2 separate regions of the Homo sapiens genome follow, and region 2 is linked to region 1. The links come from fine-mapping of genetic effects on gene expression. Tissue or cell type: adrenal gland. Region 1 holds a variant in brackets; the other region holds the start of a gene. All regions are shown on one strand. Distances are from middle to middle.

Region 1 (5,155 bases):
AAGGACATTATCAAATCATTTAGGTTAGTCTGACTTCCTTATTCTGCCAACGAGCTAAGATCTAGCAAGTAGCTTGCCCAAGATCATATAATTAGTATTGAAGTTAGAAGAAGAACTCTCTAGCTATCACTTCAACATTACCAGAATATCTATCACTTAAAAGTAGAAATGGATATAAAATTAGACAAGTTTTGCACCTTTCAAGCACATATCCAGCATCGATAAATTTGACCAATCTCTTAAATAAATTGAATTAAGAAAGTCCTGTGAAGATCTCACCAATCCACAAATAAATACTTCTAACAGTATTTGCACTGCTTTGTGTGCTGTGGCTAGCTTTAAAGATAAATCTGTCTTCCATTTGGATGTTAGTGACACTTTAATAACCAAGCCTGTTTAGATTTAACCCAAAGCAGTAGGTCCTACCAATCAGACTCAGCCTCATGGTGAAACCCTTCAGTGCCTTCCAGTACACATAATGGTCTATAGCAGGACCTAAGAAATGTATTGTGTCAGTAATTGATGTTATACCATGACTGTATTTGAAAAGAGAAGCATGCTTTGTCCAAATATAGCCAAACTGATGTCAAATTATAATGGGTGGTGTCACGATGTAACTATATTTACCATAATTTTATATATATATATATATATATATATATATATATATATATATATATATATATATATATACCTGCTTTCTATGATACAATCATTTAGGATCTCTAATGGAGTGTGCCAAACAGAAAAAGTACAAGGCCTTTTCTCATTATAAACATATGATTTTCATGTAGCAACATAACCAGTCATCTAGTTTTCCAATAATCACCCCAATTCATTAATGCATTAATTCAACAAATATACATTGAGAACTAAACTCAGTGAGGCACTGGGCTGGATATTTTACATTTATTATTTCATTTAATCTTCACAATTATTATATAAGATAGAAATTATTATCCATTTTAGTCAATCTTACTTTTAAGCCTGTATTCTTTCTGCTTTTAAAATTAAATTATTTTAAATAAGCTACACAGTGAACCACAATGAAACCAATTTCTTGTTCCTAGTCATCAGAAAAGGATCACTGTCCAAGGAGAAGAAAGATTATGATGTGACTGCTATTCTGAGCTCTCAAACAGAAAATTGTATTTTCAAATGTCTTACAGTTACTCTCTAAAATGGCATTTCACAATCTTCAAATGGACAAGAAAGAGGTAACAGCACCACCAGTCACCTTGAAGGAATAAGTGTCACAATCAGATCTAGAAAATGTCCTTCTCCAAATCTTCAAGCCATGGTAGAAAACCCCTAAAAAATTAACCCCACATTAATAGACTGATAAGATAAAAAGAAGAACTATGCAAAGTATAAGTAGACAGAGCTTGATAAAATGGGAATTGAGGGGGGCTTTAAATTGGGACCAGTATGCTCCAGTATACAAAAACTAACAGTAAAAAAGAAGGCACAACCTTACACACCAAATTCTTTTAGGAATAGATTCTTCTGTGCTCTGTCATTTCAATTTATTAATTTATTAAGTAGCCTACCAGAATCCACCCCGGAAAGAAAGAAATAAAAATCATCTCTCAGAATACTTCCATACTCATTCTACAAGGCCAGTACTACTTTGATACCAAAACCAGACAAAGCCATACATATATATATATATATGAAGCCATATATATATATGAAGCCATATATATATATGAAGCCATATTACCTCTGATGAATATTGATGCAAAAATCCTCAACAAAATACTAGTAAACCAAGTCTGACAATACATTAAAAAATATCATTCATCATGACCAAGTGGGATTTATCCCTGGGATGCAAGGATGGCGCAACATATACAAATCAATCAATGTGATACATCATATCAACAGAATGAAGAACAAAAATCATATGATCATTTCAACTGATGCTGAAAAAGCATTGATAAAATTCAACATCCCTTCCTGATTTAAAAACCCTAAAAAAACTGGGGATAGAAGGAATATGCCTCAATATAATAAAAGCCGTATATGACAGACACACAGCAAATACCATACTCAATGGAGAAAAACAGAAAGCCTTTCCTCTAAGATCTGGAACATGACAAAGATGTCCACTTTCAACACTGTTATTCAACATATTACTGGAAGTCCTAGCTAGAGCAATCAGACAAGAGAAAAAAACAAAGGGTATCCAAATTGAAAAGGATGAAGTCAAATTATCCTTGTTTACAGATGATATGATCTTATATTTGGAAAAACCTGAAGACTCCACAAAAACCCTATTAGAACTGATAAATACGTTCAGCAAAGTTGCAGGATATAAAATCAACATGTAAAAATCA[A/G]TAGCATTTCTATATTCTAACAGTGAACAATCTGAAAAAGAAATTAAAAAGTAATGCCACTTACAATAGTCACAAATAAAATTAAATGCCTAAAAATTAACTAAAAAAGTAAAAGATCTCTCTTAGGAAAACTATAAAATACTGATGAAAGAAAGTGAAGAGGAAATCAAAAAATGGAAAGATATTTTGTGTTCATGAATTGGAAGAATCAATATTGTTAAAATGTCCATGCTACCCAAAACAATCTAGAAATTCCATGCAATCCACATCAAAATACCAATGACATTCTTCACAGAAATAGAAAAAAAATCCTAAAACTTATAGTAACCAAAACAGCATAGTACTGGCATAAAAACAGGCACATAGGCCAATGGAACAGAATAGAGAACCCAGAAACAAATCCACACACCTACAGTGAACTCATTTTTAACAAAGCTGCCAAGAATACATGCTGGGGAAAAGACAATCTCTTCAATAAATGGGGCTAGAAAGACAGGATATTCATATGCAGAAGAATGAAACTAGACCCCATCACTAGCCTTATACAAAAATCAAATCCAAATGAATTAAAAACTTAATTCTTAGACAAGACCTCAATGTATGAAACTACTGCAAGCAAACATTGAGGAAACTCTCCAGGATATGGGTCTGGGCAAAGATTTCTTGAGTAATATCCCACAAGAACAGGCAACCAAAGCAAAAATGGACAAATAGAATCAAACCAAGTTAAAAATCTTCTGCACAGCAAAGGAAACAATCAACAAAGTGAAGAGACAATCCCAATAATGGGAGAAAATATTTGCAAACTACTCATCTGACAGGGGATTTATAACTAGAATATATAAGGAGCTCAAACAACTCTTTGGAAAAAATATATTAATCCAATTAAAACATGGGTAAAATATTTGAATAGGTGTTTCTCAAAAGAAGACATACAAATGGCAAACAGGCATATGAAAAGTTGCTCAACATCACTAGTCAGAGAAATGTAAATCAAAACTACAATGACATTATCATCTCACCCCAGTTAAATGACTTATATCCAAAAGACGGTCAATAACAAACGCTGGCAAAAACATGGGAATCCCTGTACACTGTTGGTGAGAATGTAAATTAGTACAACCACTATGGAGCACAATTTGGAGGTTCCTCAAAAAGCTAATAATAGAGTTACCATATGATCTAGCAGTCCCACAGCTGGTATATGCCTAAAAGAAAGGAAATCAGTATATCAAAGAGATATCCGCATCCCCATGTTTATTGCAGCACTGTTTGCAATACCAAAGTTTGCAAGCAATCTAAGTGTCCATCAACAGATGAATGAGTAAAGAAAATGTGGTACTTATACACAGTGGAGTACTATTCAGTCATATAAAAATGAGATTGTCATTTGCAACAACATGATGGAACTGGAGGTCATTATGCCAAGGGAAGTAAGCCAGGCACAGAAAGACAAACATCATGTGTTCTCACTTATTTATGGATCTAAAAATCAAAACAATTGAGCTCATGGAGATAGAGAGTAGAAAGATGGTTATCAGAGGCTAGGAAGGATAATGGGAGGGTTTGGGGCAGGTAAGGATGGTTCATAGGTACAGATAAATAGAAAGAATGGATAAGACCTAAGTTGATATCTCAACAGGGTGACTATAGTCATGCCCAAGGCCATAGGAGCCCACCTTTTGCATCAGTTTGACCTAGATGTGGGACATGGAGTCAAAGAAGATCATTTTGAAGCTTTAAGATTTGACTGCCCTGCTGGATTTCAGACTTGCATAGGGCCTGTAGCCCCTTTGTTTTGGCCAATTTCTCCCATTTGGAATGGGTGAAGTTACCCAATGCCTGTTACTCCCATTGTATCTAGGAATTAACTAACTTGCTTCTGATTTTACAGGCTCATAGGAAGAAGAAACTTGCCTTGTTTCAGGTGAGACTTTAGACTTGGACTTTTGGGCTAATACTGGAATGAGTTAAGACTTTGGGAGACTGCTGGAAAGGCATGATTGTGTTTTGAAATGTGAAGACATGAGATTTGGGAGGAGACTGGGGCAAAATAATATGGTTTTGTTGTGTCCCCACCCAAATTTCATCTTGAATTGTAGTTCCCATAATCCCCATGTGTTGTGGAGGGACCCAGTGAGAGGTAATTGAAACATGGGGGCTGGGTTTTTCCCGTGCTGTTCTCATGATAGTGAATAAGTCTTGGGAGATCTGATGGTTTTATAAAGAGCGGTTCCCCTGCACACACCCTCTTGCCTGACACCATGTAAGACGTGCCTTTGCTCCTCCTTCACCTTCTGCCATGATTGTGAGGCCTTCCCAGCCATGTGGAACTCTGAGTCCATTAAACCTCTTTTTCTTTATAAATTACCCAGTCTCTGGTATGTCCTCATTAGCAGCATGAGGATGGACTAATGCAAGTCAATAATAATTTAAATGTACATTTTAAAAATAACTAAAATAGTGTAACTGGATTGTTTGTAACACAAAGGATAAATGCTTGAGAGGATGGATACCCCACATTATATGATGTGATTATTATGCATTGCATGTCCATATCCAAACATTTCATGTATCTCATACATGAAATAAATATTCACCTACTATGTGCCCACAAAAATTAAAATTTCAATTTAAAAAAATTCCCCTTCAAATACTACCTTCCTATTTGTAGAGGATAAAGAAAGGAAGAAAAAAAATTACTATTCTATAGAAACAGATTCAATCAGTGCTACTGAAAGACATTATCTCTTACCCTTATATTTATCCCCATTTGCTATAGTTCCACAAAATATCGGGGAACCCCAGGCCTAGCC
Region 2 (5,155 bases), 290 kb after region 1:
AATTTAGATACCCTCTTAAAATATGACTACTATATAACATTACATATATCCTAACTTCTGAGGAAAAGAAATAGAAAAGCCTCTCATATGAGGACATGAATTCTTATAAATTATAATTGTCTGTGAAAGCTGAAGAAAGGTTTTTACCACCAACCCAAATTTCCACATTTTTTTATACACACCAAACAGTCTGGTTTCACAAATAACTAAAGTGCTGCTATCTTGTATTTCTCCCTCTGTACTTCCACCACCTCCTCCCTTTCTTATAGCTATTTGCTTTAAATTTCTCACTTGCATTTGCTGGAATTATCATAAACAGCTCCAGGAGAACATGAGAATCCAATTGTTTCCATGAATCATTGCACAGAATTGTTTGAGTTATCATTATAAAAGACAAGTATGACTACCTGCTGTCTTGCATACTTAAGGGATTCTTTACCAAGTACATATTTGCACACCTACCAAGGTACAGAATTTCTGGTTTTCCCAAGCTGTGGTGTTAGTTATAGGAAAGAATCCTGCATTATTTATCTGGTCCTGTTCTTTCTTCTCATATAACCACCACCTCCACCTCACGATTTCCCAAAATTGAGTAGTCCCCTGAAAAACTTTTACATTTATCATGCCTAATCTACCAGCTTTTTAGATTTCTTCAAAAGTAATACTTTATTTGCATCCATGGTGCCTAGAACTGGAAAACTGCTTGCTACCAGTCTTACCAGGATCTATTGCCAGAAGGAAAAGTACAGTATAATGGAAAGGTTTAGAGGAAAGACTTAAATCTCATTTACTATGTCTGTGAACTTCAGAAGTTACTTAACTCTCTGAGTCTCTATGTACCCATCTATAAAATTAGGGACAACACATCTTCCTTGAAAAGTTGTTGTGAAGAGATTAATTTGATATATGTGCAAATACCTGGTATTTGGTAGTTATGAAACAAATGCTAACTTTCTTTAAAGAAAACTTGACAGAAAAATGGTTTGACTCAAACAAAAACAAATAAAAATCCTTAAAGAAAAAGATTCTGAATTTTTACACATCACAATAAATAAAAATTCCACGGAATATAAGTTTTCCAGTCCCAATATACTCGTGACCCAGTGCTGAGTGAACTAATGACAAGAACCATGCCAAGAAAATAAAAAGCACAGGGTAAAAATATATTGTTACTGTTTCTCAAAAGGGGTATGGACAGGAGGGAATCACTTTTTACACAGGGAAGACCAAAGCCTACAGCATCTGCTGCTGATAACTGTATTCCTAAGGACAATAGAGTCCTGAGCTGTAGGTGCCTATTCAAACCACCTATTATTAACCTCTTTCCTTGATTTTCAACTAAAACGGTCCAAGTATTTGGAGACTGTAACCCATTTGCTCAGAATTAATTTTTAAACAGAAGCAGCCTTGCAGTATACTAAAATTGCTACCAGAGCTTAAATTAACTTGACAATAAATAAAAAGTCTGAGCTACCCTATCCTATGAAATACATGAATACCTTTCAAAGCCTGATTATTTTCTTGTCCCCTGGCCCAACACTAAATGTTCCAAAATGTTACTTGTTTCACACAATTTTTTTTTATTTCTAAATCAGGTCTAAAATCAAGTTGCTACTAGTGTGCTAAAGAACCCCAGCACATTCTCATGAGCTGATTGAAAGCAGCTTACCTTAAAATTCTCCTCTCACAATTCACTTTAGAAAATCAACTTGAGGAGTCATAGATTTGCTAGACTAACTGTTTGGTATTCTGGTCAATTCATTATCACAAAATAGGTATTATTAACTGTACCACAGCTTAGAACAATGACACACTATTCCATGTGTAGTTTGAGATCACTATTTCCACAATTTGAAGCTGAAAGTTCCATCATCAAGATAAACTTGCCTAAAGACCAAACTCACAAACAATAAGGTATCTAGGAAAGCTGGATAAGGAAAGAAACAAATTAATATTTTGAACTTTGACAGGCATGATGGAAAACAAATTCAAGGTGTGTGTTACTCAGAAAAATTCAAAAGAAATGTATCGCAGAATAAAAAGGAGTAAATTGAAAAGCATTGATAAAGCACTATTTTTAATGCACTTGCCAATCATCAATTTAATTTACTATAGTTTTATATAAATAATACTTTCAATACATAGTTATAGCATTAAATACTATAAATCTCAATGTAATACCAGTCTTGCTTAGTTATAGCAGCTTATGAACATTAATAATTTTAAGTTTTTACTAAAAACACATCAGCAATTACCCAGTGGTCTGCTTGTCAGTTGTGTTTCTTTGAAATGTTTATTATGATTAAATATTTTCATTAGTAAAAACATCTTTTACCATAGTGCATAAAATACCTTATCAGATGCAGCATATATTAGAAACTAGCCGTGTATATTGGAAAGATTGATTTTATTGAAAAGATTCATGTAGGGAATCTATGATTCCTCATAGATAATAGTACTCAGGACCTTAGATTATACAGAAAAAATAATCACATGTTAAAAATCTACGAGATGCTACAAATAAAGGTATGCATATTCAACCCTCAGGAAAACCAAATCTGTTTTTAAATAGTCTGTTGCAATTCCCTAGCAAGATTACAAATGTCATGCAAAAATGCTTTTCAAGTTATTACCTTATTACCATAACATAAGCTTTTCTTAACAAGCCATCATCCCACCCAATCAGGTAGGCTTTGAAGTTAGAAAAATTAAAAGGTAAAGTAATACAGCCAAGACCTGTGACAGCTAAAGGAAGCACAAATCACTCACATGAAGTGGCTGCTCTTCCACTCTTCAATCCGGCTTTCTCTTACCACATCAGCCAGAACTTCAGAACTTGAGGGCATAACACCTTTGACACCTTCCCAAATCACAAGAAACCTCTGACTGCCAACCAAAAAAAAAAAAAACCCAACCCCACAGCTAATTAATCTCTGCCAAGTCTCAGGCTACCAATTGTAGCCATAACTTTAAGCAACATCTAATTTGCTAAACAAAACACTGTTAACTTTGTTCAACAATTAAAGGAGTTAAAAACATAAAAGTAAATGAAAGAAGTGAAATCTCTTGGCCTGTTGGGAGATACAGTACCCCACATACCTTCTGCCACTGCTGCTACAGTTAAGCAAACTTTACAAGCTAGTCAAGCCATCATCCAATAGAGCCTATTTGCTGAGCAACAGTGGAGCTTTGTGGTTTGCCTCACAGTTGACAGTAAGTTATGAGCCCTTTGTGAGCACAGGGGAAGGAAAACAGAGATCGGAATTTGGCAGGAAAATATAATACAGAATTCTCCTGTCTATGGAACCTGAATTTTTGTGAAAACAATCAAGCATTGTTGAAAGAAAGAAAAGCAACTTTGACAGATGAAATATAGAGGGGCCCCTTTTAGGAAAACAGTAAACAAAGCGCCATTCAGGCCAGGTCCATTCTGTCATTTATAAAGATAGTTTCTTCTGTGTGGTGAGAGTTTACAGCAAAGAGTTCAGATTCAACAAATCAAGTGTAAAATCTCCCACAGTCCCCATTAAAAAAGCCTGCTAGGAAAAGACAGGAATGCCAAAGAGAAAAATATCACAAGTTTTTCTGTTTGGTAGAGAGGATACAATAAGTAGATGGGGTGAAAGGGACTCTAAGAGAAGTCTGAAAGACAAGCCAAAAAACTAACAATTGTTAATTATAAAAGGCTAATTTTGTCAGAGACAGGAAAAGAGGAGGACACTGGAGATCACTCAATAGAAATATGAAAGGAAGAAGCCATTCTTCATCATTGTTGGAGAACTATGTCTCTATTTCTCCAGGCTGGACCTCATGAGGTCATCATTGGCACGAAAGGCTCAAAAACTTGGGCTTGGTACTACTATAGTTTGGCCATCTGGAATGTCAGCACACAGTGCACTACTTTCTCCAAAGTATCTTAATTCCTCTTTCCAAAAATAGGCACCCTGGCCAGCTTTAGTCACCCAGACTGGAAAATGTACAGCACAGAATGAAATGAAAAGCATTTTTGTTTTCTCACCCTCCTCAACTAGAAATACGATTTCTGTGCGGGAGAATTAAGGAAGAGGGGCCCAGAGCACTGAAGCTCTGATTTACAGAGCCTATTTCTGCTATGCGTACGGTCGGCAATTGTTAGTACTTATAACCAACTGAGTTTTGGGCATCCATGGAATTCTTAAAGACGTATGTCTTTTCAGCCAACACAGTCATTGTTAATGCTTTAAAGAATAAAAAAGAGGGACCACAAGCCAATAAAGTCACAATTAGAATCAAATGACACATTGCTTGCACATCATTTGGAAAACATGTATAAAACTACTTGGTTTTTGCTACACCCAGCTAAAGTGACAGCCTTCGCTGTGTGTTAATCTGGAATCAAACCAAGCCACACCTAAACAAATAATGCTTAGTAGATGCAAAATAATACGGATTCTTTTATTTAGACTACCCAAACAATTTATTTCACCAACGAAATCCCATAATAACTAGCTACATTTTAAACATTCCTTTTAAAACAAAGCCCACAAAATGCTGAAGTGTGCCCATAGGTCAAGAATAATAAAAGCAAGCATGCATATGGATTCAATGCTGCAGATTTATTCAGCATTGGTTAATGGTTTCTATAGAGATTGATGTCAATCTCTCTGGCCTTTCTTGTGTCAACAGTAAGTTACAACAAGAAAGATCGTGGCTTTTGCCTTTGATTAGAAGAGGTATCTTTCTCTAGTTGACTGAAGGTCACAGCATTTGCAACATGTGCTCACTTATTACAGCTCCCATGCAGAATGTATACATAAAAAGCTGATTTACTCCCCAAAAAGGGCCAGAGCCATAGTGAACAAAAGATGACTCTGACCACATTAGATGGTTTTCTTTTCAAATAAATTCAGTCCTGATAAACCATTAAACATCAGCACATTACTAATAAAACTATAACTAGGAGACATCCTTCCACTCTGCCATTCTCCTGCCATCAACGACTTTCAAAATTATAGAATGCCAGGACAAATCATTACATTGTTTTACCTTAAAAATATATTTTACAAGAAAATTCTCAATTTTATTATGAAAGAACAAATAGTTCTACCAACAGGAAAGTGTTACAGCAAACAAACAGGGTAACTAAGGGGAAACCCAGTTGGTTTGAACATCTAGC

Direction of the effects. Positions count from the first base shown, and alleles are read on the strand shown. Sizes are in standard deviations (SD) of each study's normalised expression.
With allele G in place of A in region 1, the expression in adrenal gland of the gene that starts at base 3,222 in region 2 is lower (moderate effect, 0.59 SD a copy in GTEx).

The links. PIP is the estimated chance that this variant, and not a neighbour inherited with it, causes the effect.
Region 2: SOX6 starts here. The variant in region 1 is fine-mapped to the expression of SOX6 in adrenal gland (GTEx, PIP 0.91).

Annotation. Positions count from the first base shown.
Region 1 is chr11:16,062,862-16,068,016 of GRCh38, forward strand. The region is part of intron 9 of SOX6 (SRY-box transcription factor 6); the gene reads right to left. Among named protein-coding and RNA genes, the nearest start is that of MIR6073, 96 kb to the left of the region's middle. RefSeq lists an enhancer at 2,268-2,412 and a cis regulatory region at 2,340. The variant A/G (reference allele first, on the strand shown) is at 2,340.
Region 2 is chr11:16,353,325-16,358,479 of GRCh38, forward strand. SOX6 (SRY-box transcription factor 6) reads right to left here and starts at 3,222. Exons shown (of 16, transcript NM_001367873.1): 1 at 2,770-3,222. RefSeq lists an enhancer at 2,907-4,220.